4 linked regions of the Homo sapiens genome follow. The protein of the gene in region 1 interacts with the protein of each later gene in a pairwise test. Each region holds a gene or a part of one and is shown in the gene's direction. Other genes may lie near its edges. The genes, in order: TSC22D4, MYLIP, NRBP1 and NRBP2.

Region 1 (7,021 bases):
TCTTGAACTCTTGCATTCAGCACCCACCCCAGGGGAGAAGATGCTGTTTCTCTTCCTGTCCTGTCCCCAGACTCTTCCAAAGCAAACCCCCTTGGCCTCCAGCTTCCCTGCTCTCTGTCCTTAAGCCTGGCCTGAGCTTCTCTTGGGGCCACAGACCCTGCCTCTCTCTCTCAGTGCCCCCTACTCCCCAGCCTTCCCCCACCTCCTGACGGTCTTCTGTTTGCACGCATCTGTTTTGCTATTTCCTTGCCCAAAAGTCTGTCTCCCTTCCACGTCCCCTCATGCCTCTTCTCCCTCTTAACAGAGGGGAGTGGTGGAGAAGGGCCAGGGGACACCACCTGGGCCCCCTTCCTCTGCTCTGTCCCTTAACCACCCTGGACTCTCTGTTCTTGGCTTTTCTGAGAAGCTGGGGCCTCCCGGGGCCTCACAGAGGCGTCTTGTCATGTTCCTGTCGCCCCCGCCCTTTTTGCTGCTGCCCCCAGAGCCTGTTGGGCTATGCAGGTCCACGCCCAGGCTCCGCCTCCCCCCAGCTCCACAACCAGCTCCCCCCCCAACCCTAGGGCAGAGCGCAGGAGCAGAATTCCACCTGAGTCCGAGAAGTTTGAGAGGGGAAGCGAGAGTGGGGGGTGGGTGAGGGGATGGAGGAGCAGTTTCTGAGGATCCATTCATTCTACAAATAGCTACTGAGCAAACTGACCTTCTAGCAGGGGAGAGACACAATAAATACTTTAATTTCAGATAATGTTAGGTGCTATAAAAAAATGAAATAGTTCAGTAAACCAGTGAATGATGGGGAAATGCCTCTCTAAGAGGTGACATTGGAGTCATTTTAAGAAGGCAGCCTGGGTGCAGTGGTTCACGCCTGTAATCCCAGCATTTTGGGAGGCCGAGGCGGGCAGATCACTTGAGGTCAGGAGTTCAAGACCAGCCTGGCCAACATGGTGAAACCCTGTCGTCTCTACTAAAAATAAAAAAATTAGCCAGGTGTGATGGCAGGTGCCGGTAGTCCCGGCTACTCAGGAGGCTGAGGCAGGAGAATCAGTTTAACCTGGAAGGCATAGGTTACAGTGAGCCAAGATCACGTCACTGCACTCCAGCATGGGCGACAGAGCGAGACTCCAGTAAAGGCACAGGCTGGGAGTGGTGGCTCATTCTTCCAGCACTTTGGGAGGCTGAGGCAGGAGGATCACTTGAGCCCAGGAGTTTGAGACCAGCCGGGACAACATCTTGAGACCCTGTGTTAACCAAAAATAAAAAATTAGCCAGTTATGATGGTGCATGCCTGTAGTCCCAGCTACTCGGGTGGCTGAGGCTGGAGGATCGCTTAAGCTCAGGAATTCAAGGCTGCAGTGAGCCATGATTGTGCCACTTCACTCCAGCCTGGGTGACAGAGTGAGACTGTCTCAAAAAAATAAAAATAAAACATAAAAGAAGGCAGACACGCTGCGTAGCCTCTGATTAGGGGTCCCGGCCCAGTGGGAGCTGGGGCATTGGAGTCTATTCTGGGTTCCTCCGTCAGTCACCCCCTCCTCCCACTTGGGAGACTCTCTCTAATGTCCTATACACCACTCCTCCCATTCCTTAGGTTGACCCACTTCTTGCTTCTAGTACCTGCCTAATGCCTTCTCCAGAGCTGGAGGAGGGAAGGACTGCGGGGACAGGACTCCTGGGTCCTCGAAAGAGAGTGGGGAGGTGGAGAGGGAGGAAGGCTAATAGGCAAGTTTTAAGGCAGCTGGTTCCTTTCTTTTCTCTTTTCATGTGATGGTTCCTACCTCTCCGCCTCCAGGTGCCCCCACTTGACTCTCGCCCCAGCTCCCCAGCCCTCTACTTCACCCACGATGCCAGCCTGGTTCACAAATCTCCAGACCCCTTCGGAGCAGTAGCAGCTCAGAAGTTCAGCCTGGCCCACTCCATGTTGGCCATCAGTGGTCACCTAGACAGCGACGATGATAGGTAGGTGGGCTTCGTGGGGTGGTGGGGCGTGGGGTTCAGGTTCCCCGCCCAGCACCCGGGGTAGCTGTAAGAAAGTGCCTGGTAGGCATCCTTCCCCCAGGTTGAACTTGGAGAGGACCTCTTAGAGAAACCTGGCCTGGGCATAGCCACTGCACACAGTTGATTTCGGACCCACTCCCTCTCTGTGGAGAGGGCTGGGTGGGACTCCCTGGCTCAGAACTGTCAGGTCACAGACTTTTTTAGAGTCTGAAGGGAGTCATTGTTGTCAGATTCCAGAGCTCTTGCAGATTTAGAGATCATCTGGCCAACCCAGGAACCCACTGGCAAATGCATGCTCTAGACAGAATAGCAAATCAGGCCGGGGCACAGTGGCTCCCGCCTGTACTCATAGTGCTTTGGGAGGCCCAGGCAGGAAAATTGCTTGAGGCCAGGAGTTCAAGACCAAGCCCTGGCAATGTAGCGAGACCTCATCTCTAAAAAGAAAAAGAAAGAAAGAAAAAAAAAATATATATATATATACATAAAGGAAGTAGGCTGGGCATGGTGGCTCATGCCTGTAATCCCAGCACTTTAGGAGGCTGAAGCGGGCAGATCACCTGAGGTCAGGAGTTCGAGGCCAGCCTTGCCAACACGGTGAAACCCTGTCTGTACTAAAAATACAAAAATTAGCCAGGCGTGGTGGTACGTGCCTGTAATCCCAGCTACTCAGGAGGCTGAGGCAGGAGAATCACTTGAACCCAGGAGGCAGAGGGTGCAGTGAGCCGAGATCGCACCACTGCACTCCAGCGTGGGTGACAGAGCGAGACTCCGCCTCAAAAAAAAAACAACAAAAAAAACTGAAAAAGAATGGAAATCAGTTTCCTCCCAGTTCCATCTCCCTCTTTCTCTCCTAACAAAGGACTGGGACTCCCTAACAGCACCTGTGGAGCGTGACATCCTGATAGCCCACAGGGTCTACTTTAGGATCCTAAGATTTCTAGAACCGAGAAAGCAAGTCCCTAAGATGGGCCAGCTAGGAACAGAATCAGAGCTAGGAACGGCAAAGGGGCAGGGGCAGCACTGCAGAGAGCGACTTTCTGGGGTTCTCCCTTTAGGGGACAGTGCTCTGTTGGGTGGGTTTTCAGGGCCAGGTGTCACCATTCCTAAGAAAGCCAGCAAGCTGAAAAGGGAGGCCCAGAATCGTGAGTCAGAGATAGCCAGGCTGCCTGCTTCTCCCCGGGGACTGATAGGAACCGGGCAGAAGGGCTGGGGAGTCACCGCTTTTCTTTTGGAGGGAGAAGTGGGACTTCCCGTGGGAGGTTTTCAAGGGGAGGGACTTCCTGCTTGGAAGGAAATTGGGGGTGGGGCTTCGAGAGTGGGTGAGTGGGTGCCTGAGGGACCAATTCCAGATGGGAGTCGCTCCTTCCTGTCCTCCCCAGATCAGGGGCCACTCGCTGGGATCAGGGACTCAAGCCCACCACTGATAGGGTCCTGCGGCCTCAGGGAGGATAGGGACCTGGCAAAGGAGGTGGCCAGGAGCTGGTGGGACGGAGGGCAAGAGTGCCAGTGCTGGGTGGGGCTGGGCGGGGCTGGGCAGGACTGGGTGGCTTCTGCACGCCCCATTCCCACTCTCAGGAATGTGCGAGGTGTGAGGTCGGCCAGGGCTGGGAGAGTCACCTGCCGCCATCACTGCTATTCTCAGCGTTTCCCGCCCTCTCCCTCTCCCACTTGGGAGGTTCCCCGGCAAGAGGACTCCCCGTCCCTCCCCCACCCCTGTTGAGTTCACAGCCCAGCCTCCTGCTGTCTCTGTCTTAGAGGATTCAACCTCCTGAGGCCTCCGTCTTTCCCCTGTACCCTCCCTCCCTGCCTCCCTCCATCCCACCCCCTCCCTGCACACCCCAATCTGACCGGTCCGGTTCCCAGCCTCCACTTCACCCTGCTGTGCTCCAAGGCTCTTGGGGATCTGTCCCAGCCCAGCCCCTCAAGCCCCACCCTGCCAGGCCAGCGGGTTTGGGTTGGGCCACCCCCTGCCCCCTAGGAATGGGACATGTAGGCCCCACCTCTCCTGTCTGGTGTGCACAGGGCTGGCAGGACAGGATGCCAGTGGCCTGGGACCTCTCTCTTAAGAGGGAAGGTGGGCTGAGATGTTCAGTGCCTGGATCACAGGGAGGGAGTTGGGGACGCCTGACCAGTCCCTGAATCTGGGGATGGGCGAACAGAGGGTGCAGGTGAATCTAGAATGCTCACGTGCCCCAGGGCTGGAAATCCTTGTCCCCTCCCGGCAGGCAGGAGGTAATTAAGGTGTGAAGAAGTGGATGGAAGGAATGGGGGTGGGGGCAGTGACCGGCCTGGGGGATCCAGGCATTATACAGAATGGATCCCAGGGACTTGGGAAAGAAAAGGTACATTTATTTATCCAGTGCCTCCCTTGGGTCCGGTACTGCCTTCTCCCTTCTAATCCTAAAAAGCAGTTCCATTCTCCCACTTGCCAGATGAAGTATCTGAGACTCAGAGAAGGAGGTTTTTTTTTGTTTTGTTTTTGTTTTTTTCTTTTTTAGATGGAGTCTTGCTCTGTTTCCCAAGCTGGAATGCAGTGGCACGATCTTGGCTCACTGCAACCTCTGCCTCCCAGGTTTAAGCGATTCTCCTGGCTCAGCCTCCCCAGTAGCTGGGACTACAGGTGCATGCCACCATGCCCGGCTAATTTTTGTATTTTTAGTAGAAACGGGGTTTCACCATGTTGGCCAGGCTGATCTCAAACTCCTGACCTCAGGTGATCCACCCACCTCGACCTCCCAAAGTGCTGGGATTACAAGCATGAGCCACCTCACCCGGCCAGGAGGGTTTTAGAAACTTGCCCAAGGGCCACCCAGCTAGTTTAAGTGGCTGGACTGCAGCTGGAGCCTGGGTCCAACTCCAAAGCCACACCTTCTCCACTGTCCTACTGGGATGCCTGTGTCCCAGGCAAAGAGGTGGCGGCAATGGTCTACAATATCCTTTCTCTCTAGGACAGTCAGGTACAGCTCTCCCAAGCAGGGCAGGGAGCCAGCCCCCCTTCCCCCTCCCCGACCTCCCCAGCCCCGCCCCAAAGACACCACAGATCCGGGACAGCATAGAGACAGGGCAGCTGGATGACACTTTCTTGGCCCCAGACCTAGGCCCTGGGGGATCCCCTGAACCCACTGGAGAGTGTGCAGGGCTGGCCCCTGTCCCCAAGATCCCAGGCTCCCCATTTCTCCCAGGTGTCCTGCTTTTTATCTCATCTTCATGTTGAGGCCGTTTTATTTGACCCTCAAAGAGGAAGACCAGCTTCTAGGGCTGTCCCCGCCCCAGGACCAAGAGTCCTGCAGGGCTAAGTCTCCCACTGTGCATGTCACACACTGCACAACTAACTCCAGGGGGTGCCGCTCATATTTGAAATCACAGTCAATGCTTGAAGTCACGACAGTTTTCCAGAAGATGGCATTAAGGATCTCGAAGAAGGGGGCATTTTCTAATCCATACAAACTTGCTTTTGGGCTTGTGGTGGAGGTCGATCCTGTCTCAGCAGCCCCTACTTTCCTCCCCCGGACCCTGTCAAAGAATTCTAGCACAGTGCCCACAACCCCTCGCTTTGGGGTCCTAAAGGGAAGGGCCTGCATTGCCAGAGCCCTGGTCCCTTGAAGTGTGTGTTAGAATGTTCCAATAGAGGCCTGGCACAGTGACTCACACCTGTAATCCCAGGACTGAGATGGGAGGCTGAGGTGGGTGGATCATGAGGTCAGGAGTTCAAGACCAGCCTGGCCAACATGGTGAAACCCCATTTTGCCGGAGGCTCCCCGGCAAAAATACAAAAATTAGCTGGGCATGGTGGCTCATGCCTGTAATCTCAGCTACTCTGGAGGCTGAGGCAGGAGAATCACTTGAACCCAGAGGTGGAGGTTCCAATGAGGGAAAATCCCGCCATTGCACTCCAGCCTGGGCAACAAGAGCAAAAACTCCCAGGCGCTAGACAAACAGAAGACAGTCACCTGTCGGCTAACAAACGTTTATTGCTGTATTATTCCTTTATCTCTGGTGAGAATGAACACCTTACTTGACATCTTTACCCCTGAGTCTCTGCCCAGCAGGGCCCATGTTCCTATCCCTGTGTATCCAACCCCTTTGGTCTCTGTGAGTGTTTAATGGGGTGGTGGCAGTATTGGGCTTTCTGTGGTGGCTCCATCTCCACCCAGGTGTTGCTGATTGAAATAGCTCGAAAATTACTTTGACCCTCCTGCTGGCAGACCCACCTCCACCCTTCAACTTCTCCTCTCCCACCACCCCAAGAGTCCCAGATGCCCTTCCCCCACCCACCCCATCCTGCTCGCTCAGGCCTAGTCACCTCCTTAGTTGCTCCACCTGTCAGCGCCTTCTGCACCCAGAGCTGGGATGAGAAATGGAAAATTCCCAGCTCCCTTGTGCTCCCTTCCTGGCTGCAGGACCTTATCCAGGGGTCACCTTGAATTGAGTGCTGATCCCCCTGCAGGAAAGCAAGTCTGAGCTGACAGCCAGGAGGGAGGGCTTACAAGGGAGTCCAGGGATGTGGGCTGCAGCGCCTTGAGGCCCCTGCTCCAAGGGGGGCCCAGCTGGGGGCTGGAGGGCAGGACTGGGGATCCCGCCACAGCGCCAGAGTGCAGGGGTGCAAGGGTGGGTCGGGAGCCTCAGGGCAAGAGCCTGGGGCCTGAGGGGTGGGAGAGGGAGCCTTGGAGGATGAGGTCAGCACAAGGGCCTGCGCAGGTGGGGCCTGAGAGTGGGGCTTGAGGGAGAGCCAGGTTCTGGGACCAGGAGCCCAACGTCGTGGAGCCAGCCTGGAGCCCGGCCCTGGGGGCTGTTGAGCCAGGCCTGAGTCGCCCTCTGGTGGCCACTTCCCAGACTGCAGCCAGACCCTGTCACCCCAGACTCCCAGCCCTCTTCCAAGCCCTGTTGCTCCTCTTCCCAGTGTCCCTTCTCCAAGCTCACTTCCCTTCCTCTCCTCAAACCCTCGCTTCCTCTGAGACCCCAGACCCAGGTCCCAGGCCCATAGGCGATTTTTTTTTTTTTTTTTTTAAGACAGAGTTTTGCTCTTGTT
Region 2 (7,021 bases), on another chromosome or scaffold:
CTCTTCTTACTATCTAATAAAGCAGGAACTAGTCTCTAACTTTACACCTGAAAAATAAGTTAAAAGCCACTTTTGCCTGTAATCCCAGCACTTTGGGAGGCCGAGGCAGGCAGATCATGAGGTCAGGAGATTGAGACCATCCTGGCTAACACGGTGAAACCCCGTCTCTAATAAAAATACAAAAATTAGACAGGCATGGTCTAATGTAGCTATCGGGAGGCCGAGGCAGGAGAATCGCTTGAACCCAGGAGGCGGAGCTTGCAGTGAGCCCAGATCGTGCCATAGCACTCCAGCCTGGGCGACAGAGCAAGACTCCATCTCAAAAAAAAAAAAAAAGGCCACTTTTACATAAGCAGTAATTAAACTAAGAAGACTTCGTTTGTGGCAATATTCTTCAAGTCTTTCAGAGCGTAATTTCTTCTTTAACGAAAGCATAGATGCAGATTTTAGTTTCCTAACAGCACACCTCCACCCCAGTCGAATACAGAGATGGGTACATTCACCAAGATGAAGTTTATCAAATGGTCATCTAAGAAGCCTTTTGAGGCCTGCAACAGTGTAGTAAACCACGGCTTGCTGAGAATGCTGGATCTCAGTCCTCAGATAGCTATTTTACAGCAAATTATTTTCATGGTGATTCCTTTGCCCCAGTGGGGGCTCCTTTCTCAGTTTAGCAGTATGTCAGAAATACTTTAAAGATTAGCAGATGTTTGGGTTAATAAAAACCATCTTTATCTTCTTTGAGGCTATTACACATTCTTACTATGATTTCTTTACACGGGCTTTGAAAAAAAGAAAAAACTGCAGTATTTGGCAGAGTTTCATCATTTTAAATATTTCTTTATCATTATAGAATGCACAAAACATTGAATTTAAATACTTCTTAGTGAAAATAAGATTAATGGCTCTTGTCAGCCAGACATTGTAGACTCTCAGTATAGCACCTCCTTAGATTTGTAGCCTCACTGCCTCCTCCTTAGTCGATTCTTACCTTGCTCATGTTCCTCTACCTGGAATGTCAGACACAGATATATTATTAAACAGAAACAGTGCTGAGGACATCGCACCTGGCCAAAGTTACAATTCATTTGTTAATGGGACGAATAATGTGGCAATTAGCCTTGTTTGAGAGGTTATGACAAGTCATCGAAGGAAGGTTAAAACTTCACATTTGCCAGGGACACTTGTTATAACTGAGGCCAATCTGTCTACAGCAGTTTAGGTGCTCTTCAGAGTTTTGGGCAGTGTGACCAGTATCTGAATTTTACAGGAGTTTTTAAGTGTGACATAACCTTTTAGTAAATGTAGAATATAGTATTGTATACAACTAGGATGGGCTTAAACAGGATGAAACTAAGGTTGGAAGGTAAACTAATCACACATAATATGCAGTTTTATGTACATTTTTGGAGCTCTCTGATGTTCGAGGCACTTAAGAAGTCATACATAATATACATGTTATGTCAAATACTGTACCAGAGGAATAGAGGATTTGCATGTGATACAGACCAAAGGGTATCCAAGCAAGGCGACAGAAAGAATGGCCCTCAGGACAGAGGGAGCAGCAAGACCAGAGACACCAGAGCATGAACATGCTTCCTAGATTTCCCAGGGAGAGGAATCGTTCCCTATCCTGGGGCATAGCAGCTGCAGGGAATGACAGGAGACGTGGCTGGAAAGCTGGGGCCAGATGGCGGAGACTCCTCAGCTCCACGTTAACAACGTGCTCCCTTGGCAAGCCGTACAGATCCTTTGAAGGATTTTGAGCAGAGAAATGACAAGTTTATACTAGAAACAAGCAGCATGGAAGGTAGGCTGCCTGCATGGAGTCTGGAGGAGGAGAGCAGCGCAGAGAATAGTGTAAATTCTTCCTGCAAGTAGTATTGAGGAGGTACAAATGGGAGGATAGAACTGGATTTAAATAGTTTTCAGAGAGAAGAAAGTCAAGTGAAATAGGACAAAGAGTCCAAAGTCAGTCCGTGGTCTCCATTCGGAGAAAAAGGGCTTGGGAAAGAATATATGGAGTTTGGTTTTGAATGAGCCAAAATTGAGGTACCGAAGAACATCCAGGTGGTGAAGCCTATAGGAGATTGGACATTTTTCATGTGATTCTTAGGACAGAAGCTGGCACTGAGACTAGAGATTGGGGTATCATTTGAATAAAGGTGAGAATTTTGTCTTTATGTATAGAGTTCCTTAAGATTCTATCAGAATCCATGTCAAGATACAATTTTTCTGATTAAAATAATTTCTTTTAAAACACTATAATGCAGAAACTTATGTGTAATTATTTTATGTTTTGTAACCTTAATGTTACCGAACTTGTGTTAAATAAGTTTATCTTGTTTGGGTCACAACTTTTATTCCAGAGAAACGCAGTTCTTATTTTGATTTTGCCTTAATACTGATGATTTTTTTTTGAAGTTCTTTAATGTTAAGCATTTTCAGTGTGACTTTTAAAATTGCTTTCCTTAAAAGTGACTGTGAAATTGCTAAGTAGGCTGAGATTGATGTCAGGTTATCCCCAAGCATAACCTCACTCTCACCTTGCTTTGCAGGCATATCTTTTTCTTGCACATCAAGGAGGCCCTCTTGGCAGGCCACCTCTTGTGTTCCCCAGAGCAGGCAGTGGAACTCAGTGCCCTCCTGGCCCAGACCAAGTTTGGAGACTACAACCAGAACACTGCCAAGTATAACTATGAGGAGCTCTGTGCCAAGGAGCTCTCCTCTGCCACCTTGAACAGGTGAGGCTGTTGAATATAGTATTGTTTACAACTAGAATAGGCTTAAACAGGATGAAACTAAGGTTGGAAGGTAAACTAATCACACATAATATGCAGTTTTATGTACATTTTTGAGCTCTCTGATGTTCGAGGCACTTAAGAAGTCATACATAATATACATGTTATGTCAAATACTGTACCAGAGGAATAGAGGATTTGCATGTGATACAGACCAAAGGGTATCCAAGCAAGGGGACAGAAAGAATGGCCATCAGGACAGAGGGAGCAGCAAGACCAGAGACACCAGAGCATGAACATGGCAGCATCAGGGCTACTGCATATATTCATAGAGCTATCAAATGTATAAGCATTTCCAAAAGAAGATGAATCTGTGGTACATACACATAATTTGTGAAGTTAAGACTGGGCCATTGCCCAATTTAACCAAATATTTTCAAAAAATTTGTTAGCCTTTTATTTGAAAAATATGTAAACACAATATGAAATGCTATATAAAATGGGAATTTTTTAAATCTGTGCCTTTAAGTACAAATCTCCTAAAATAAAAAATCTATTATGTATATTGGTGTTTTCTTCATCCCAGCAAGAATTAAACCAGGAGATCTAACATAGGCATTTTAGTTATCTATTCCTGCATAACAAGTTACCCCAAAACTTAGTGACATAAAACAACAAAAATTGTCTCACAGTTCTGTAGGTCAGGAATCTGGCCATGTCTTGGCTGGGTCCTCTGGCTCATGAGACTGTAGTCAAGCTGCAGGTAGAACTCTGTCTCATCTGAAGGCTCGACTGAGGGTGGCCTCCATGCCAGGTTGACTCCTGTGGTTTGTTGGCCTACCTCCTTCCCTGGCCACAGGGGCCTCAGGGGTCAACTTTATACTTATAAACTATATGTGGACAAATGCATGAGACTTTCCAATATGTAAATTTGACTTATGTATATTTTTAGAGACTTTCCATAATTCTTCCAATTCATCACCCATCCAGCATCCCCAAAGTGTTTTTACCAAGTATTTAATAGTTGAGATCCCAGTGTCTTAGACGTTTTTTATAGTAAGTTCGCTAAATACATGAAACATCAGTAATACATAAGTTTTAAGTTGTTGTGATTCATCAGTGTTAGTATATTTCACTCGTGAAGACTACATAGGTTTATCTCTAAAGCTAATATCTGTATACTTAATTCTCTGTCCTCTTGGTGTCCTCCAGCATTGTTGCAAAACATAAGGAGTTGGAGGGGACCAGCCAGGCTTCAGCTGAATACCAAGTTTTGCAGATTGTGTCGGCAATGGAAAACTATGGCATAGAATGGCATTCTGTGCGGGATAGCGAAGGGCAGAAACTGCTCATTGGGGTTGGACCTGAAGGAATCTCAATTTGTAAAGATGACTTTAGCCCAATTAATAGGTAAGCCAAGACTTAACTTTTTTTGACCTAAGCATGTGTATACATCTGTAGCTGTCAATGTAATAGAAAATAGGAAGGGATTTACTCGACAGTCAGCTCTTAGGAATGAAAGATTTCATTTTGGTATGTACATTAATTTTATTCAGGCCTAAATAACCATTTTAAATGTTATTCAAGGTATACAATGTGGCAGAGTTAACGTTTTCCAAATAACCCATTCACTGCCATAAAAAACTTGTTTTCAGCTCTAGACATGCATGTGCGCACACCCAGCACTTGCTCCCATACTTCCCTCCACATATGCCCAACTGCTTTTCACTGTATCTTTACAATAAGGCAGCATTATGGTGATGTGATAACCCCAGAGGAAGCGTCTGATTTTTCTGCTAGGTCATGAGCAAATGGGGATCCCACAAAGGCACACACATGGTGAAGAATCACTCCTTCTAGATCTGCTTTCTTTTCTCTTCCTGTCTCTTAGGATAGCTTATCCTGTGGTGCAGATGGCCACCCAGTCAGGAAAGAATGTATATTTGACGGTCACCAAGGAATCTGGGAACAGCATCGTGCTCTTGTTTAAAATGATCAGCACCAGGGCGGCCAGCGGGCTCTACCGAGCGATAACAGAGACGCACGCATTCTACAGGCACGTATCTCGTGTGCTTGGTCACCTCAGCACCACAGCTCTCAGGTTTTTAGGTGACAACCAGGTTTCTACGGTTCCTTGGATTGTTGTGTCAATGAGTCTAGTACAGAATTTAAGAAATTCTGAACATTTTGTTTCCGTAGTAGCAGTGGAGTCCTTATTAATGTAGTCTTGTTTTACCCACAGAAGGTGCATGTGTGTGAGCTGCACAAACACATTCTCTGCTTACCTCCTACCGTATTCTCTTATGCCATTAATCTAGACACAAAGTGTGTTAGGAGATTTCTATGCCTATTTAATCAATACAACAACCCTAAGGGGTTATTATTACCCTAATGTTAAAGATGAGGGAACTGGGAGGATAATTATTTACTTAGTCTAGGACTCAGCTTCAAAGCCAAGTTTGATTACCCTAAAGGTAACCCTGAGGGACTGGGCCTGCTCCACTGCTCAGGAGAAGGATAGCACAGATCATCTTTTCTTTCTGGCAGAGCTGCTATCCTGAGTCGTCACTGTGTATGGAAGGATTTTTTAATAGCAATATTGATTCCCTCATTTCAGAGGGTACTTTAAAGCCAAGTTGTGATTGGACTCACGTATTTGGACAATTAAAGCTAAGAAATTTAAGTCGTAGACAACTTTAAACTTTTTTATTTTAAAATAGATACACAAATTGTGAAACAGGATGGGAAATTTTTAGACATTTCTAACCTAAAAGCCAAGACTTCAGGCAGATGCCCTTTTTCTTCCATAAGCAACTTCACTCAGTAGCGTCTGTCCTGGGGAGGAGGTACGTGCTCACTGCCCTCTGTATTTACTGCTTTACGGAAGCCATAATGTCAGGAGATGTTAGAGAAACAGAGGTGTAATCACTGAGAATATTTACCAGACGTAAAACTGGAAGGACTTACTTTCATACATGCAGACGAGACTATGAAACATCTGCTGACATTTCTGTTCTTATTGACAACAGCGAATAAGGGTGCTGCCAGGCTCTTTGGTGTTAAAGTAGATGTTCAATCTTGCCTTGCAGGTGTGACACAGTGACCAGCGCCGTGATGATGCAGTATAGCCGTGACTTGAAGGGCCACTTGGCATCTCTGTTTCTGAATGAAAACATTAACCTTGGCAAGAAATATGTCTTTGATATTAAAAGAACATCAAAGGAGGTGTATGACCATGCCAGGAGGGCTCTGTACAATGCTGGCGTTGTGGACCTCGTTTCAAGAAACAACCAGAGCCCTTCACACTCGCCTCTGAAGTCCTCAGAAAGCAGCATGAACTGCAGCAGCTGCGAGGGCCTCAGCTGCCAGCAGACCCGGGTGCTGCAGGAGAAGCTACGCAAGCTGAAGGAAGCCATGCTGTGCATGGTGTGCTGCGAGGAGGAGATCAACTCCACCTTCTGTCCCTGTGGCCACACTGTGTGCTGTGAGAGCTGCGCCGCCCAGCTACAGGTAGGGGAGTCAGCTGCCCACTTTTGCCTGCAGCCTCACCTATCCCTCCTCTTAACGGGGAGTAGGAGCCAGGTACTGGCTCGCTAATGCACAGACGGGGAATGCCCATCTTCACCCGGAAAGGGTCTTTGTATTTGGTGACCTAAAAGGCATTGCCCTTTAGAAACATTTTAGATTAGCATACTATTTTCAACAACATAATTACTCCAAATTATGCAGTGTTTTCAAGTTCTGAAAATGAGGCTGAGATTCCTGGGTAACATATCTAGTTAGCGGCTTACCTGAGGACAAGAATCCAGGCCTCCTGAGGCCTGGCCCAGGGCTGCTTCCTCTATTTCAAGTTGCCTCCCTTTTTCTGACACTTAGGAGGATGGTCTTTATTACTTAAGATATTTGGGAAAGAATACTTCTCAATTATCCATGGATGGGTTGTTGACTCTGTGATATTGGTGATTAATTTCCTTTTATGATTGCAAATGCCTCAAGGGCATATGGGTTGGCTGTTATTTATTAGCAAGTCAAACTAATTTTAATATTAACACGAAAAAGAGAACTCACATATAGTTTTCTTCCTTTCTTGCATGAAGAAGAATTTTAAATTTCCTCTTACAAGTTTTTTCAATTTGTTTTTATTTCTCAGATGTGTTTGCCAAATGTCACTGTGGTTTTATGTAAAACTGGTTCTAGATAATACTTAGTCCTTCAGAAGCTGCTAATTTCAGAGCTAATAAGACCAAATGACCCCTGTGTCCTTTCCCCAGAAGCAGTCA
Region 3 (7,021 bases), on another chromosome or scaffold:
AGTCATGTGCCCCAAGGGTAGCCTCACCATGGACTAGTGGGCTTGTTCTGTGTAGAGAAGGGATGGATAGTGAATGCCAAGGTTAGTTCTAGCTGGATAAATTAGCCAAGGGTTTCAGCTGGATAAGTTGGCTGAGGGTGCTACAGGTCTAGCCTTAAGGCTGTCTCACTGAAACATTTTGGAGTCTGGAGTCATCTGTTCTGAATAGCGCCCACATAGTTTATATTTTTTTATTTTTTGAGACAGAGTCTCACTCTGTTGCCCAAGCTGGAGTGCAGTGGCACGATCTCAGCTCACTGCAACCTCTGCCTCCCGGGTTCAAGTGATTCTCCTGCCTCAGCCTCCTGAGTAGCTGGGACTACAGGTGCGTGCCACCACACCCAGCTAATTTTTTTATTTTTAGTAGAGACAGGGTTTTGCCATGTTGGTCAGGCTGGTCTCGAACTCCTGACCTCAGGTAATCCACCTACCTCGGCCTCCCAAAGTGTTGGGATTAAAGGCGTGAGCCACTGTGCCCGTCCACACATAGCTTAATTCTTGAGCACAGTAAAAATAGGGTGTACTTGGGGATTCAAAGGGAAGCCTATTGGATGAGTATTTGCCAAGAAGGAATGGAGCACCTGATTTTGCTGGTGATTTGAACCTTACTCTAAGTGGGATTAGACTGCCATAAATCTTGTGTTTGTCATTCCTGGGAGGGTCATCTTCAACTAAGATAGCTCCCCTTTTCTAGACTAGAGTTAGGAGAATAGTTAATGTTTCAGTATTTAGGACTGATTCTGATTTTGGATTTAAAGGAAACAAAGGTGGTGTGTGTTTTCTATTTTTAATTTTTAAAAGTTTTGTGTAGAGACTGGGGTCTTTTTATGTTGTCCAGGCTGGTCTCAAATGCCTGGCCTGTTTTATTTTCTTTTGAATTTGCAGATAAGTATTAGGATTATTAAATCTTTTTTTTTGTTTGTTTGTTTTTTGTTGAGACAGGGTCTCCCTCTGTTGCCTAGCCAATGGCATGATCATAGCTCACTGCAGCCTCAAACTCCTGGGCAATCAAGTGATTCTCCCATCAGCCTCTCGGGTAGCTGGGACTATAGCTGTGTACCACCTTGCCCTGCTAATTTTTAAATTTTTTTGTAAAGATGGGGTCTCACTTTGTTGCCCAGGCTGGTCTCAAACACCTGGCCTCAAATGAACCTCTTGCCTCGGCTTCTCAAAGTGCTGGGATTACAGAGGTGAGCCACTGTGCTCAGCTGGATTACTAAATTTTTTTTTGAGATGGGGTCTTGCTCTGTCACCCAGGCTGGAGTGCAGTGGCGTGATCTCAGCTCACTGCAACCTCCACCTCCCTGGTTCAAAAAAATTCTCCTGCCTTAGTCTCCTGAGTAGCTAGGACTACAGGCACGCGTCACCACACCCAGCTAATTTTGTATTTTTAGTAGAGATGGGGTTTCACCATGTTGATCAGGCTGGTCTTGAACTCCTGACCTCAGGTGATCTGCCCACCTCAGCCTCCCAAAGTGCTGGGATTACAGGCATGAGCCACCACGTCCAGCCTGGATTACTAAATCTTTACAGATGTATCCTGACTTTCTCTGCCTTTTCCCTCTGTATTTGCCCCAACCAGTGCAGGCCTGAGTGTTCCTTCCAGCATGTCGGAGGGGGAGTCCCAGACAGTACTTAGCAGTGGCTCAGACCCAAAGGTAGAATCCTCATCTTCAGCTCCTGGCCTGACATCAGTGTCACCTCCTGTGACCTCCACAACCTCAGCTGCTTCCCCAGAGGAAGAAGAAGAAAGTGAAGATGAGTCTGAGATTTTGGAAGAGTCGCCCTGTGGGCGCTGGCAGAAGAGGCGAGAAGAGGTAAGGTTATGGTACAGTTACTCTTGGGTGAGTGAATTCTGGAAAGGTGAGAACTGGAAGAGCAAAGTCTTAAAAGAGGCCAACCAAACTTCAATAGGTTGGGGGCTAGGAGGAGATGATCATATGGAGTGTTAAAATGGAGGATTTGTGAGATAAGTTTAATTCTCTTTCATATGAATTTCTTCTCAGGTGAATCAACGGAATGTACCAGGTATTGACAGTGCATACCTGGCCATGGATACAGAGGAAGGTGTAGAGGTTGTGTGGAATGAGGTACAGTTCTCTGAACGCAAGAACTACAAGCTGCAGGAGGTAGGTGATGCTGAAAAGGTGAAGCCTGGGGAATGTTGGAACACTGATGTTAGAGAGGAATTGGTGTTGGGAAGCTGCCCGTGAGGAGAGTATGTTGGGGTTAGATCGTTTCTGGGGAGGGATAGGGAATGGCTTCTCAGGATTATTACAGTGATTTGTGACTCTGTTATTCCACTGTCTCCCTTGCTTTCAGGAAAAGGTTCGTGCTGTGTTTGATAATCTGATTCAATTGGAGCATCTTAACATTGTTAAGTTTCACAAATATTGGGCTGACATTAAAGAGAACAAGGCCAGGGTAAGAATTTTTTCCCCATATTTCCTGAACTTATTGCAAAGAGACTAGCTACATTTATTATTGTTCCTTTTACACTCAGAGATTAAAACAAGGTAGTTTTGAAACAGAACTGGAATCAGCTGCAATGGCGATAAGAGTAGGGCTTCAGTTGTCACCTATGCCTTTTGTGTGGCTATAGATTGGGCAGAAAATGAGTGAACTTTTGCTTCTTTCTTCCCATAACTTTCATTGCTTGTTTTCATTGCCCTATTTAGTCTAAGTAAGTAAAGCTAAGAACAAAAGGAGAGAAATTTTAACAAACCTTCAAATTTAAAATATGTTAACAAGGGAAGGGATCATTTCTACTATAAGGCCTTTTAGTAAGTGCTTTGCCTCCCCAGGTCATTTTTATCACAGAATACATGTCATCTGGGAGTCTGAAGCAATTTCTGAAGAAGACCAAAAAGAACCACAAGACGATGAATGAAAAGGTATAGAAGGAGAGCAGACAAAGTTTGAGGCTGGTTTTTGGGGGTGGTTTTAAAAAGGACTCTGTTAATAATGAAGCTGATCAGGAAGGGACGGAAGGAGCTAGTGGGAGAGAGTTAAGAGAGGGAATTACTGCTGACCCTTGGATCCAACTTTGTTCCAGGCATGGAAGCGTTGGTGCACACAAATCCTCTCTGCCCTAAGGTAAGTAGTACCTGGTTAGTTTCTTACCCATATTTCCTGATGTAGTTACTCCAAACAGATTTCAGGGCACTACTCTTCTGTTCTATTCTGCCTCTCCCCACTTTCTTTGAATCATATACTGTCAAGATTAGGGCCCCTACGGGTCTTTTAAAGGGTGCGTCCTAATGCCCTAACCACGACACTTATCTCCTACCTCTTTCTCCTAGTGCTTATCCAGCTATTTAAATCATCAGGCATAATGGAGATTCAGAGTGTGGGGATTATCTTTATGGTGACCAGCAGGAGACCTGGCCCTTGCTCCTCTTAACCCTTGGGTTCCCCCTGCCCTTAATTTCCCAGTGGCCCCTCTAACAGCCCAGTGCCCCCACAGCTACCTGCACTCCTGTGACCCCCCCATCATCCATGGGAACCTGACCTGTGACACCATCTTCATCCAGCACAACGGACTCATCAAGATTGGCTCTGGTGAGGGGAGGGAGAGGTTCTGGGCAGGGGAGCCTCGGGAATTTGGGAACCATGGGGGTAAGATGAAAGGAATGGGGGATAACAGAGCAAAATTCTGAGGTGTGGGCTGGTGAGAAGAGAAAGGACCTTGCTAGGAGTAATTAATAGGAGAGGCCAGTTAATTAGTGGAGAGGGGGTAGGATATATAATCTTACACCTTTTTGAAGGGAAAATTGGGGTTAATACAGAGATACTGATAAGAGGCTGGGAAAGGGCAAGAGATAGGTTTGAGGTTTGATTTGAGTCCTGGGGCCAGACCCTGCCAGAGGAGGTTCCAGGCTGTTCCTGCTGTGAGTGCTTTCGTTTGCTGTGTATTGTATGCAGTGTACAACATTTCTGTGTGCTGTGTCTGTGTGGTATTTGTGTGTCCATTTGTCTGGGGCTTGGCTGCTCCATCGCTCACAACTTTTCTCTGTTTTCCTCCCTCCCGCTTACGGGCTGCTCTGTTCCCAACAGTCTTTCATAGGATTTTTGCTAATGGTGAGAGCTCCCTCTGCCCCACTTGGGGCTCTGTTTGTGCTCCCTCTGCTCCCTTGGCGGCTGCCCAGTGCATGCAGTCGTGGGAGCAAACCCTCTTCCCCTATCTTCCCTGCCTAATTATGCCTGCTTAGCTTCTGCCCTGCCAGCCCTCCGCCTGCTTGCCCCTTCATAACCTGCTTGTTTCCTGTGGATTCTGCCTGGCTGGCCACTTACCTCCTGGATTCATGTTCTCCCTCATCATCAGGCTAGTTCCCAGATCATACTGTGCTCCCAGATTCTCTGTGACTTGTAGTCATTGTTTATGATCTGAGTGAGTCCAAATTGGGCCTGGTCCTGGTTCCTCGTTCAGCTCTGTGGCAGACAGTGTTGAGGAATAAGGGGGTAGAACAGGAGTCTAAAATGTTTTGGTGGATTAAAAGTGGAACAGATTCAAGGGTATTAGCTCAATTCTGAGCTGTTTTGAGTTTCACTCAGCAAAGGTGGGTAAGAAGGAGGCTACCTCCTGAGCTGTATGTTAATACTTCTTATCCTTATTTATCCAAGTTCCTGAGGTCTCCAATTGTCCCAGATTAGGAAGGGCTGCCTGTGTTTTTATGTTATTTGCAGGGTGGATGAAAAAACTAAAACCAAATATTTTCATGTGAGCAGGGATTAGAGGTACCTGGGATTTAGGGAAGGTGAACGCAGTACAAGTGAAAATTTTTCCTTAAACTTCATTGCTTCTAGACCAGCCTGAAGCCCCTGTGTATCTGTTAATTTAGTCTGGTGCTTTTGTTGCTCCTGATTTAGGGACATTAGATGAGAAGCAGTAGGCCTAAGAAAGGGGAGGTAGGTGGCATCCATGTGTGGTCTGTAGTTCAGGACAGGAAAGGGAATATGTTTGTGCCTGTTGAGGGTCATCAGAAAGGAGACTTCAGGAGAGAATTTGGCTTTTGGGGCCTCTCTCTGGAGTGAGACTATTCTTCATTGATGATGGTCAGATTGTGGGTGTCTCCCCTACTCCCAGTGGCTCCTGACACTATCAACAATCATGTGAAGACTTGTCGAGAAGAGCAGAAGAATCTACACTTCTTTGCACCAGAGTATGGAGGTGAGCCTTCCTGCTTTCTCTGCCCTGTCCTCATCCCCCTGCTTTTGCACCTTATAACTTGAGGTACAGAGGCAATATAACTGAAACTTCTAGGCCTTCTCTACCAGCATACAAAATATTTTTCTTTTCTTTTTTTTTTTTCCTAAGGCATTCCTGCCAACCCTAGCCCCCAATCCTCTGATTAACCAAAGCCTTCTCTGTTTTCCCTAGAAGTCACTAATGTGACAACAGCAGTGGACATCTACTCCTTTGGCATGTGTGCACTGGAGGTGAGGGGACTGGAGGGGAGGGGGGAAAGGGGTCAGATGAGAAGATGGAATTGGGAATGGAGGGAAGACAAGTAAGGCGCTGGCTTGGAGGGAGTGATTGTGGGAGCACTGAAGTTCTTAGGTGTCTACTTTTTTTTTTATTCTTCCTCACTGAAGATGGCAGTGCTGGAGATTCAGGGCAATGGAGAGTCCTCATATGTGCCACAGGAAGCCATCAGCAGTGCCATCCAGCTTCTAGAAGACCCATTACAGAGGGTAAGGATCTTCAGGATCACTCCCTCCTCAACTGACCTTCAAATGTCTTCTGGTTTTTCTTCCTTTGTACCCACTGGGTATATGCTCCTAAGAGCTAGGGAACATAACAGAAAGGACACGAAAAATCTATAAACATTTTCTTAGGAGGTGCCTACCATGTTTTTGCATAGAAACACACAGGTAAGGGGGTTAAGATGGATGATGCTGGGGTTAAAAGTTGTGTGTTGGAAGCCGGGCATGGTGGCTCACGCCTGTAATCCCAGCACTTTGGGAGGCCGAGGCGGGCGGATCACGAGGTCAGGGGATCGAGACCATCCTGGCTAACATGGTGAAACCCTGTCTCTACTAAAAATACAAAAAAAATTAGCCAGGCTTGGTGGCGGGAGCCTGTAGTCCCAGCTACTCAGGAGGCTGAGGCAGGAGAATGGCATGAACCCGGGAGGCAAAGCTTGCAGTGAGCTGAGATCGCGCCACTGCACTCCAGCCTGGGCGACACAGGTAGACTCCGTCTCAGAAAAAAAGAAAAAAAAAAAAGTTGTGTGTTGGCTGGGTGCAGTGGCTCACACCTGTAATCCCAGCACTTTGAGAGGCTGAGGCGGGTGGATCACTTGAGGTCAGGAGTTTGAGACCAGCCTGGCCAACATGGTGAAACCCTGTCTCTACTAAAAATACAAAAATTAGCTGGGCATGGTGGTGTGTGCCTGTAGTCTCACCTACTCGGGAGGCTGAGGCAAGCTTGAACCCGGGAGGCGGAGATTGCAGTGAGCTGAGATTGGGCCACTGCACTCCAGCTGGGGCAAGAGAGCGAGACTGTCTCAAAAAAAAAAAAAAAGTATGTTAATTTGAATGTGTCTACATGGAGGTAAATTAATTTGATGGTTACTTCAGGCCATTGCTGTATACTCTCAGACAGCCATTTTTATATTTTTAAGCACATCAGTCAATTTAAATTAAACCAGTTGTTTGGGATTTTATATTTATACAGTTTTAGTTAGGGACGGTGGCCTGAAATAATGAGCTAAGATTTAAAAGACATAAGGTTATGAATCAGTTGATAGACTATAGTAAGCAGAGCCTGGGCAGGAAGGTCCAAACAAGAACAGTTTGTAACTCATTAGATAAGTATAGTAGGGAACAGGAGAGAAAAGAAGACTAGTGGGAAGTCAGGAGGATAGTGTGGAGTAAGTTTCTACTTCAACATTGAGGTGGAGTATTCAAGTGAAAGATTAGGTATGTGACCTTGTTAGCCTTCAAGGTTAAAAGCAGGAAAGCAGGTTAATTGTCATGG
Region 4 (7,797 bases), on another chromosome or scaffold:
TGCCTCACAGGAGGGAGAGGCTTGGGAAGACTCTGAGGTGACAACCATGGAGCCCCAGTAGATCTGCAAGGTGGAAGAGGAGGAGGCAGTGAGCAGCGAACCTGCAGTTGGCATCACAAGGCATCGCACAGGGGGCCAGGCACAGCGGCTCACGCCTGCACTCCCAGCTACTCAGGAGGCTGACGCAGGAGGATCCCTGGAGCCCAGCAGTTCAAGATGAGCTTGGGCAATATAGCAAGACTGGCTCTACAAAAAGTTTTAAAAAATAGCTGGGTGCAGTGGCATGTGCCTATAGTCCCAGTTATTCAGGAGGCTGAGGTGGGAGGATCCCTTGAGCCCAGGAATTTGAGGCTGCCGTGAGCTGTGATTACACCACTGCACTCCAGGTTAACAGAGTGAGACCCTGTCTCTGAAAAAAATAAAAAATAAAAAAAAAGCCAATTCACAGATTAGGCTCAGAGGGCAGGTGGATGGCTCAATGGCTAAGAGCAGCCCTAGAGAACTTCCAATAAATTGAAATGGCCTGGCAGCATCAAGGGGTGGAGAAGCTCAGAGGCCGAGCAGAAGGGAGGGTACGCCCCCGCCCTGGGGCACAGCCTGAGTGAGGCCAGGGAGGGTGTGCCGCAGCGGCCACCACTTCTGTGCGTGGGCAGGCAGTAGGACGACCCACTCTGTGCATGGGAATAAATGCTGGGACGCATCCCTGCACGCGAACACATAGCTGTTGTCACGTTACTGTTCTTACCACGGGGGTCATGCTGGAGCAGCACCAGAGATGGAGGAGTAGCGTAAAACAGCACAAACAGATTCGCTCACTGTGCTGGAGGCTGGAAGTGCAAAATCAAGGTATCGGTAGGGCTGATGCTTCCGGAGGCTCCGAGGGAGAATCCATCCCAGGACTCTCTCCTCACCACTCATGGCCCTGGCAGTCCCAAGTAGGGTCCAGCCCCACAGGGACGGTGGGTCTCTCCCCGTGTGCAGAGACGAGAGAGTGTAGAAATAAAGACACAAGACAGAGATAAAAGAAAAGGCAGCTGGGCCCGGGGGACCACTACCACCAAGTCGCGGAGACCGGTAGTGGCCCCGAATGCCAGGCTGCACTGATATTTATTGGATACAAGACAAAGGGGCAGGATAAGGAGAGTGAGCCATCTCCAATGATAGGTAAGGCCACGTGGGTCATGTGTCCACTGGACAGGGGGCCCTTCCCTGCCTGGCAGCCGAGGCAGAGAGAGAGAGGAGACAGAGAGAAAGACAGCCTACGCCATTATTTCTGCATATCAGAGACTTTTAGTACTTTCACTAATTTGCTACTGCTATCTAGAAGGCAGAGCCAGGTGTACAGGATGGAACATGAAGGCGGACTAGGAGTGTGACCGCTGAAGCACAGCATCACAGGGAGACGGTTAGGCCTCCGGATAACTGCAGGCGAGCCTGACTAATGTCAGGCCCTCCACAAGAGGTGGAGGAGTAGAGTCTTCTTTAAACTCCACCGGGGCAAGGGAGACTCCCTTTCCCGGTCTGCTAAGTAGCAGGTGTTTTTCCTTGACACTGCGCCTACCGCTAGACCAAGGTCCACTTGGCAACAGGCATCTTCCCAGACGCTGGCGTTACCGCTAGACCAAGGAGCCCTCTGGTGGCCCTGTCTGGGCATAACAGAGGGCTCGCACTCTTGTCTTCTGGTTACTCCTCACTATGTCCCCTTAGCTCCTATCTCTGTATGGCCTGGTTTTTCCTAGGCTATGATTATAGAGTGAGGATTATTATAATATTGGAATAAAGAGTAATTGCTACAAACTAATGATTAATGATATTCATATATAATCATATCTAAGATCTATATCAGTACAACTATTCTTATTTTATATATTTTATTATACTGGAACAGCTCGTGTCCTCGAGTCCCAGGCACGCCTTGACCTGTGGGTACATCCCTCCAACACTGGCCTCCATGTTCATGTGACTGTCTACCTTATTTCTCTGCACCCCAAGTATCCCTTTTCTTTCTCTGATAAGGACATCAAACATTGGATTTAGGGCCCACCCCAGCATCTCAAGATCCTAAACTTATTTACATCTGCAAAGACCATTTTTTTTTTTTCAAATAAGGCTGTGCTCCTAGGTACTGGGGATCAGGATGTAGACTTTTGGGGGACACTATGTGACCTACCACAGAACATGTGTGTCTGGTTATGGGGGCGGAGAAAGGGGAGGAAATTCATTGAGATTCTTCTGCTCAAGGCTTACCTCCTTAGGGGCTTCTCTGGACCACACCCGCCAAAACGCACCCCTGCCCACCCACAGATCCATTCAACAAGTGTTTGCTGAGGGCCTGCTGTGTGCCGGGTACCGTCCTCGCACCAGAGAAAGAGCAGGGACAACGAGCAGACACTCCTGCCCTGCGGGAGCTCGAATCGCAACAGGGACACAGACAGTGAAGAAGAGAGATGAGAAAAACCCAGATGCAAGTCAGGTGGGGTGAATACTCCGGGAAAAGTCAAGTCAAGCAGGCGAAAGGGTGTGGGGACTGTGATGTCAGGATTCGTGGTCAGGACAGGCCTCTCAGGAAGTGACCTCAGAGGATGTTTGGGAAGGGCGTTCCGGGCAAAGGTATAACCAGGGCAGAGACCCTGAGGGGAAGTGCCTGTCATGTCCGATGGCACAGGGCCGTGTACTTGGGGTGGGCTCAGCTGAAGAAGGCAGCTGACGTGAGGTAGGGTAATGGGACCAATTACTGGGCCTTCATGTTTAGGCCCTCATACCAAGTGAGAAGGGACCACTGGGGGGGCTCCCCAAAACCACCCTCAAGTTCAATGGTTCACTAGAAGGACTCACAGAACTCGGAAAGGGTACTATTTATTACAGCAATGGATGCGTTAAAATCAGCAGTGGCAAGGACTCACAGAACAGAACCCAGGACAGACCAGCACGGGTCTGCAGGTGTCCCCACCCACTGCAGGCATGGGGACAGTGCTCAACCTCCCAGCACTGAGGTGTGACAATGAGCACAGCATGTCAGCAGCCAGGGAAGCCCTCCGTACCTCAGTGTCCAGGGTTTTTATTGGGTTGGTCACACAGGCATGGCTGACCTCCCAGGTGGCTGACTTTGGCCTCCAGCCCCTGCAGAGGTCAGGCTGATGCCACATGGCCCAAGGTCCCCCCGTAGACCATATTGTTAGCACAGACCAGGGGTGTCCAATCTGTGGGCTTTCCTGGCACACATTGGAAGAATTGTCCTGGGCAATACCCTTAAATAAAATACACTTAACACTAACAACAGCTGATGAGCTTTAAAAAAAATCTCAATAAGAAAGTTTATGAATTTGTGTTGGGCCATATTCAAAGCTGTCCTTGGCCGAATGCACCCTCTGGGCTGCGGGTTGGACAAGCTTAGCATAGAATCTGGTGTGGCCGAGGTAAACACAGACATTCAAATCAGGCAGAACATTCCAAGGGCTTAGAGGGTGTCTCCCAGGAGCTGGTCAGGGCCAGTTTCAGGGTGGAGGATTTGAACACCCCAAACCTTTACTGCAGAGGGCCTCAGCAGGATCACCTGGCATTGGTGGAAACCACACACAAGGTGCCTGGTGACCAAGGCTGGTCAGAAAAGAGAGACCACAGGGGACGCAGCAGGGCCAGATGCACCTCTGCCAAAGAAAGAAAGAGGCGTCCCAAAGGGCCAGTGCATGGAGCTGCGCGGAGGGGAGGAGCGGAGTTCCAATTTGGGCTCCAGAGAGAGAAGGTAAAGGATGAGGACCCGCCGTGAAGGAGGGAGGAGACCACAGGAAGGCCGTGGGGGCTGTGGGCTGAAGGGGGTTTTAGGTGAGAATCGGGGACAGCCCCGGTGGTCGGCGTGGCTGGAGGGTGTGCTTAGAGCGGCCTCCGGAGGGAGAGGTCGTGTGAGCCGGGTGGGCTCCCCCCTCATGGTTCCACTGTCCCATGGGAGCCAGCCGCGGAAAGGAAATGCGCGTTTGAGGAGAAAAGAGAAAATCGCCATCCTGGAAAGTGAGAAGATGGGCTTGTGGGCGGGAGGAGGCACTGGTGGGCGGGCCAGGGAGAGATTCGTGGTCACCGATCAAAGTCAGCCTGGGTCAGCCTGCTGGTGGGCCTTTCCCCCGCCCTCGGTGCCCCTTCGACCTGTCCCTTGGGGGTCGGCCGGGGAATGAGTGCGTGGCCAGGAGAGCGGGTCCCGCTTTCGAGCCCGCGGGGTCTTCTGCAGCTGGAGGGTGCCGTGGGCTTGGGGGCCCCCAGATGCCCCGGGTCTTCCCCCAGATCCTAGGGGAGCAACCGCGAGAGAAGTGGGCGCTCCGGGCTCCAGGTGTCCGCAGGGCGGGGCCTCCGAGGGGGCGGGGATTTGGGGGCGGTTCCTCTGCGCGGGGCGGGGCCTCATAGGGGCGGGGCTTCGAGGAGGTGAGGCGGGGCCTGGGGTGGGGCTTCGCGGAGGACCCTGGGAACGGGCGGGGGCGGGGACTAAAACGGGGCGGGGATTCGCGGGGGTGGGGCGGGTCCTGGGGCGGGGCTTCGCGAAGGAGGCTTGGAGGACGAGGAGGGGACAGGGCCTGGGGAGGGGCTTCGCGGAGCAGGCCTGGGAGACGAGGAGGAAACAGGGACTGGGGCGGGGCTTCGCGGGGCGGGGCCTCCGGGGGGGCGGGGCCTGGGCGCGGCCCGGGCTCGGCAGCTCTCGGGGAAGCTCTGCTCTGGCTCCGGCAGGCACAGGCGGCTCGGGAGGTGCGCGCCGGCTCCGCCCCCGGGCCCCGCCCGTCCGCCGCGCGCCCGCGCCTCCCAATTCCCAGAGCCGGGGCTGGGGCTCTAGGCTGCCGCGGCGGCTCTAGGCTGGGCTGCTGGGCGCGAGGCCAGGGCGGGCCGGGAGAGGCTGCGCCGGCGGCGGATCGCGCAGAGGGCGGTGGCCTGGGCTGGCCGAACCATGGCGGCCCCGGAGCCGGCGCCGAGGCGGGCCCGGGAACGGGAGCGGGAGCGGGAGGACGAGAGCGAGGACGAGAGCGACATCCTGGAGGAAAGCCCGTGTGGTCGCTGGCAAAAGCGACGGGAGCAGGTGGGCGCGGGGGTTGGGGCACGGGGTGACACCGCCCTCCCAGAGCGGGAGGGGCCTGGAGGCTGCGCGGGGCGTGGGGGCGCTGGGAGAGCGCGGCGGCTGGAAACCTCTCCGCGGCCCCTCGCGGCCCGCGAATCAGCCACCCCTGGACCCCTTTGGCCTGGCGCTCGCCCTGGGACTCCCTGAGGGCCAGTCTCCTCCCAGGACCACCTCCCCATGCCTCTGGACTCAGCCGCTAGCTTCCTGGGGATCCCCCTCGACCCCCTGAAACCTGCTCCAAATCCCCTTAGCCCAGCCCTTGGATAGGAGCCCTTGGCTCCTGGGGGCAGCTACCCTCCAAGCCCCACCTTCCCGCAGAGTGGCTCAGGGCCTGCAGCCCACGCTTGGGCCCACTGGAAAGGTGTGGACAGGGACCAAATCCTCACCCACAACCCTGACACACACCAGGGCACACATAACCCTTTATTCACCCCCAGGTAAACCAAGGGAACATGCCAGGGCTTCAGAGCACCTTCCTAGCCATGGACACGGAGGAGGGGGTAGAGGTGGTGTGGAACGAGCTCCACTTCGGAGACAGGAAGGCCTTCGCGGCGCACGAGGTGAGACCGCTGCCCCCTCCTCATCCTGCTTGGGTGACCACCTGCTGACCACCCAGCGACCACCCTCCCTCCCCAGGAGAAGATCCAGACCGTGTTCGAGCAGCTGGTGCTGGTGGACCACCCGAACATCGTGAAGTTGCACAAGTACTGGCTGGATACCTCTGAGGCCTGCGCGAGGGTGAGCACGGGCAAGGCCCCGGGCAGGCAGAGACCACAGCTAGGTGGGGCGGGCATGGGGACGAACCCGCAGCTGGTGGAAATCCTGAGCTCGCACCGTGCAGGTCATCTTCATCACAGAGTACGTGTCATCAGGCAGCCTCAAGCAATTCCTCAAAAAGACCAAGAAGAACCACAAGGCCATGAACGCCCGGGTATGGGGAGCGGGCTGGGGCAGCCACGGGGACAGGACGGGGTTGGGGCAGCCTCGGGGACTGGGATGGTGAGGGGGTGCCCGGCGGCCTCGGACAGGGGCTGGGCGAGGATGCGGGGCGGGCTCCGCAGGCCCAGCCGCCTCTCCTGCGCCCACCCGACCGACGGAGTCGTGCGTCCGCCGCCAGGCCTGGAAGCGCTGGTGCACGCAGATCCTGTCTGCGCTCAGGTGAGGGCCTGGGCTGGCCTGGGCGCGGCGCCACCGAGCCCCCATCTCTCCAGAGCCTCCTGACCGGCTCCTCCTACTCTCCCCTCCCCAACGTCTGCAGCTTCCTGCACGCCTGCAGCCCCCCAATCATCCACGGGAACCTGACCAGCGACACCATCTTCATTCAGCACAACGGCCTCATCAAGATCGGCTCCGGTGCTGGCGGGGCAGGGCTGGGTGGGGGAACGGGGCAGGGGAAGGTGCCTGGAGCCAAGGGCAGAGGAGTTCTGATGCCCCAGCAGCTAACTCCACTCTTTCTCCCGCCCCTTGGCAGTGTGGCACCGAATCTTCTCCAATGGTAAGTGCGGACTTTGGGGGGACGGGGTCCTGGAGAGGTCCCCGCCCGCTCAGCTCTGCGCCCTCCCACAGCACTTCCAGATGATCTCCGAAGCCCCATCCGCGCTGAGCGAGAGGAACTTCGGAACCTGCACTTCTTCCCCCCAGAGTATGGAGGTGAGTGGTGCTGGGTCCGGGTGCCCCGTGCCTACCCTGCGCTTCTCTCCTACGTGTCCTGTGCTCTCTTCTGTTCAGAGGTGGCCGATGGGACCGCTGTGGACATCTTCTCCTTTGGGATGTGTGCGCTGGAGGTACTGCCCCCGCCCTCCACCTTGTGCTCTGCCCTCCTCCTAACTGTGCCCTGCCTGGCTCACCTGTGTGGTCCCTTCCCCATGCCTGACCTGGCTCTGTGCCCCAGATGGCTGTACTGGAAATCCAGACCAATGGGGACACCCGGGTCACAGAGGAGGCCATTGCTCGCGCCAGGCACTCGCTGAGTGACCCCAACATGCGGGTAAGCAGCTTGCCCTGCCCCTCCCCAGCTGGCTCACCGTGCTCAGCTAGGGCTAGCAAGGTGCTCCAGGCAGACCTGGGAGAACATCACAGTTTGTGCAGTTGAGGGGTATACCAGCTGACTGCACCCCTCCCAAAGAGGACCTCAGTGGGAGCACATACTGGTTCCAGGCCTGAAGGCCCTAAGGGGTCAGCACATTCTAAGGACAAGAAGGCAAGAGAGACCCTCCCTCTGTGGCTGCCATCACCATGCCCGTTTTATAAAGAAACCAAGGTTCAGAGGAGATGAGTCCTTTGCCCAAGGCTTTAGAGTGAGTGGTGGAGCCAACATCTGCACCTGGGTCTGCTTCACTCCAAGTCCTTGACTTTAAGCTTCCAGGAGGTGATGAGGCTCCAGCTTGTGGGGGGACATGGTGGGTGCCAAGCAGGCAAAAAGAGGTATGGGATGGAAGCTGCATCCACAGCCCCCTCTGCTCGGAGTCTAGACTTAACTCCATGGCCTCAGGAGATGGGGGTGCCTGGTCGGGGCTGGTGGCGAGCTGGAGCCGGGCTGGGCACGGATGTGGACAGAGTGGGGACCCATCAAGGTCGTCTCCAGTGTTGGGCCCGAGCTGAGCCGATCAAAAGGCCATGGGTAGGAGGCTTGCAGGTGTGACTTTAGGATCATGGCTTCTCCCCACGATTTTTTGGGGGTCGAGGGAAGCAGAGCATGGTGCTCC

The links.
Region 2: the proteins of TSC22D4 (region 1) and MYLIP interact in binary tests that used the Homo sapiens proteins (3 or more experiments, as listed by UniProt).
Region 3: the proteins of TSC22D4 (region 1) and NRBP1 interact in binary tests that used the Homo sapiens proteins (3 or more experiments, as listed by UniProt).
Region 4: the proteins of TSC22D4 (region 1) and NRBP2 interact in binary tests that used the Homo sapiens proteins (3 or more experiments, as listed by UniProt).

What each region holds. Positions count from the first base shown.
Region 1 is NC_000007.14:100,469,206-100,476,226, reverse strand, and holds part of TSC22D4 (TSC22 domain family protein 4), read left to right. Parts: intron 1-1,786; coding exon 1,787-1,953; intron 1,954-7,021. Other genes in the region: TSC22D4-C7ORF61 (uncharacterized protein LOC122198330), read left to right, coding at 1,787-1,953.
Region 2 is NC_000006.12:16,139,067-16,146,087, forward strand, and holds part of MYLIP (E3 ubiquitin-protein ligase MYLIP), read left to right. Parts: intron 1-2,489; exon of another isoform or gene 2,490-2,558; coding exon 2,559-2,744; intron 2,745-3,953; coding exon 3,954-4,151; intron 4,152-4,632; coding exon 4,633-4,797; intron 4,798-5,830; coding exon 5,831-6,251; intron 6,252-7,021. UniProt on the Homo sapiens protein: E3 ubiquitin-protein ligase that mediates ubiquitination and subsequent proteasomal degradation of myosin regulatory light chain (MRLC), LDLR, VLDLR and LRP8. Activity depends on E2 enzymes of the UBE2D family.
Region 3 is NC_000002.12:27,431,628-27,438,648, forward strand, and holds part of NRBP1 (nuclear receptor-binding protein), read left to right. Parts: intron 1-1,621; exon of another isoform or gene 1,622-1,626; 5' UTR 1,627-1,646; coding exon 1,647-1,856; intron 1,857-2,045; coding exon 2,046-2,168; intron 2,169-2,361; coding exon 2,362-2,463; intron 2,464-2,843; coding exon 2,844-2,933; intron 2,934-3,094; coding exon 3,095-3,135; intron 3,136-3,505; coding exon 3,506-3,600; intron 3,601-4,095; coding exon of another isoform or gene 4,096-4,119; intron 4,120-5,125; coding exon 5,126-5,209; intron 5,210-5,419; coding exon 5,420-5,478; intron 5,479-5,634; coding exon 5,635-5,733; intron 5,734-7,021. UniProt on the Homo sapiens protein: Required for embryonic development. Plays a role in intestinal epithelial cell fate and proliferation, thereby involved in the architectural development of the intestine potentially via the regulation of Wnt-responsive genes.
Region 4 is NC_000008.11:143,837,962-143,845,758, reverse strand, and holds the start of NRBP2 (nuclear receptor-binding protein 2), read left to right. Parts: upstream 1-4,785; 5' UTR 4,786-4,924; coding exon 4,925-5,053; intron 5,054-5,529; coding exon 5,530-5,652; intron 5,653-5,728; coding exon 5,729-5,830; intron 5,831-5,933; coding exon 5,934-6,023; intron 6,024-6,209; coding exon 6,210-6,250; intron 6,251-6,350; coding exon 6,351-6,445; intron 6,446-6,563; coding exon 6,564-6,587; intron 6,588-6,658; coding exon 6,659-6,742; intron 6,743-6,820; coding exon 6,821-6,876; intron 6,877-6,983; coding exon 6,984-7,079; intron 7,080-7,797. UniProt on the Homo sapiens protein: May regulate apoptosis of neural progenitor cells during their differentiation.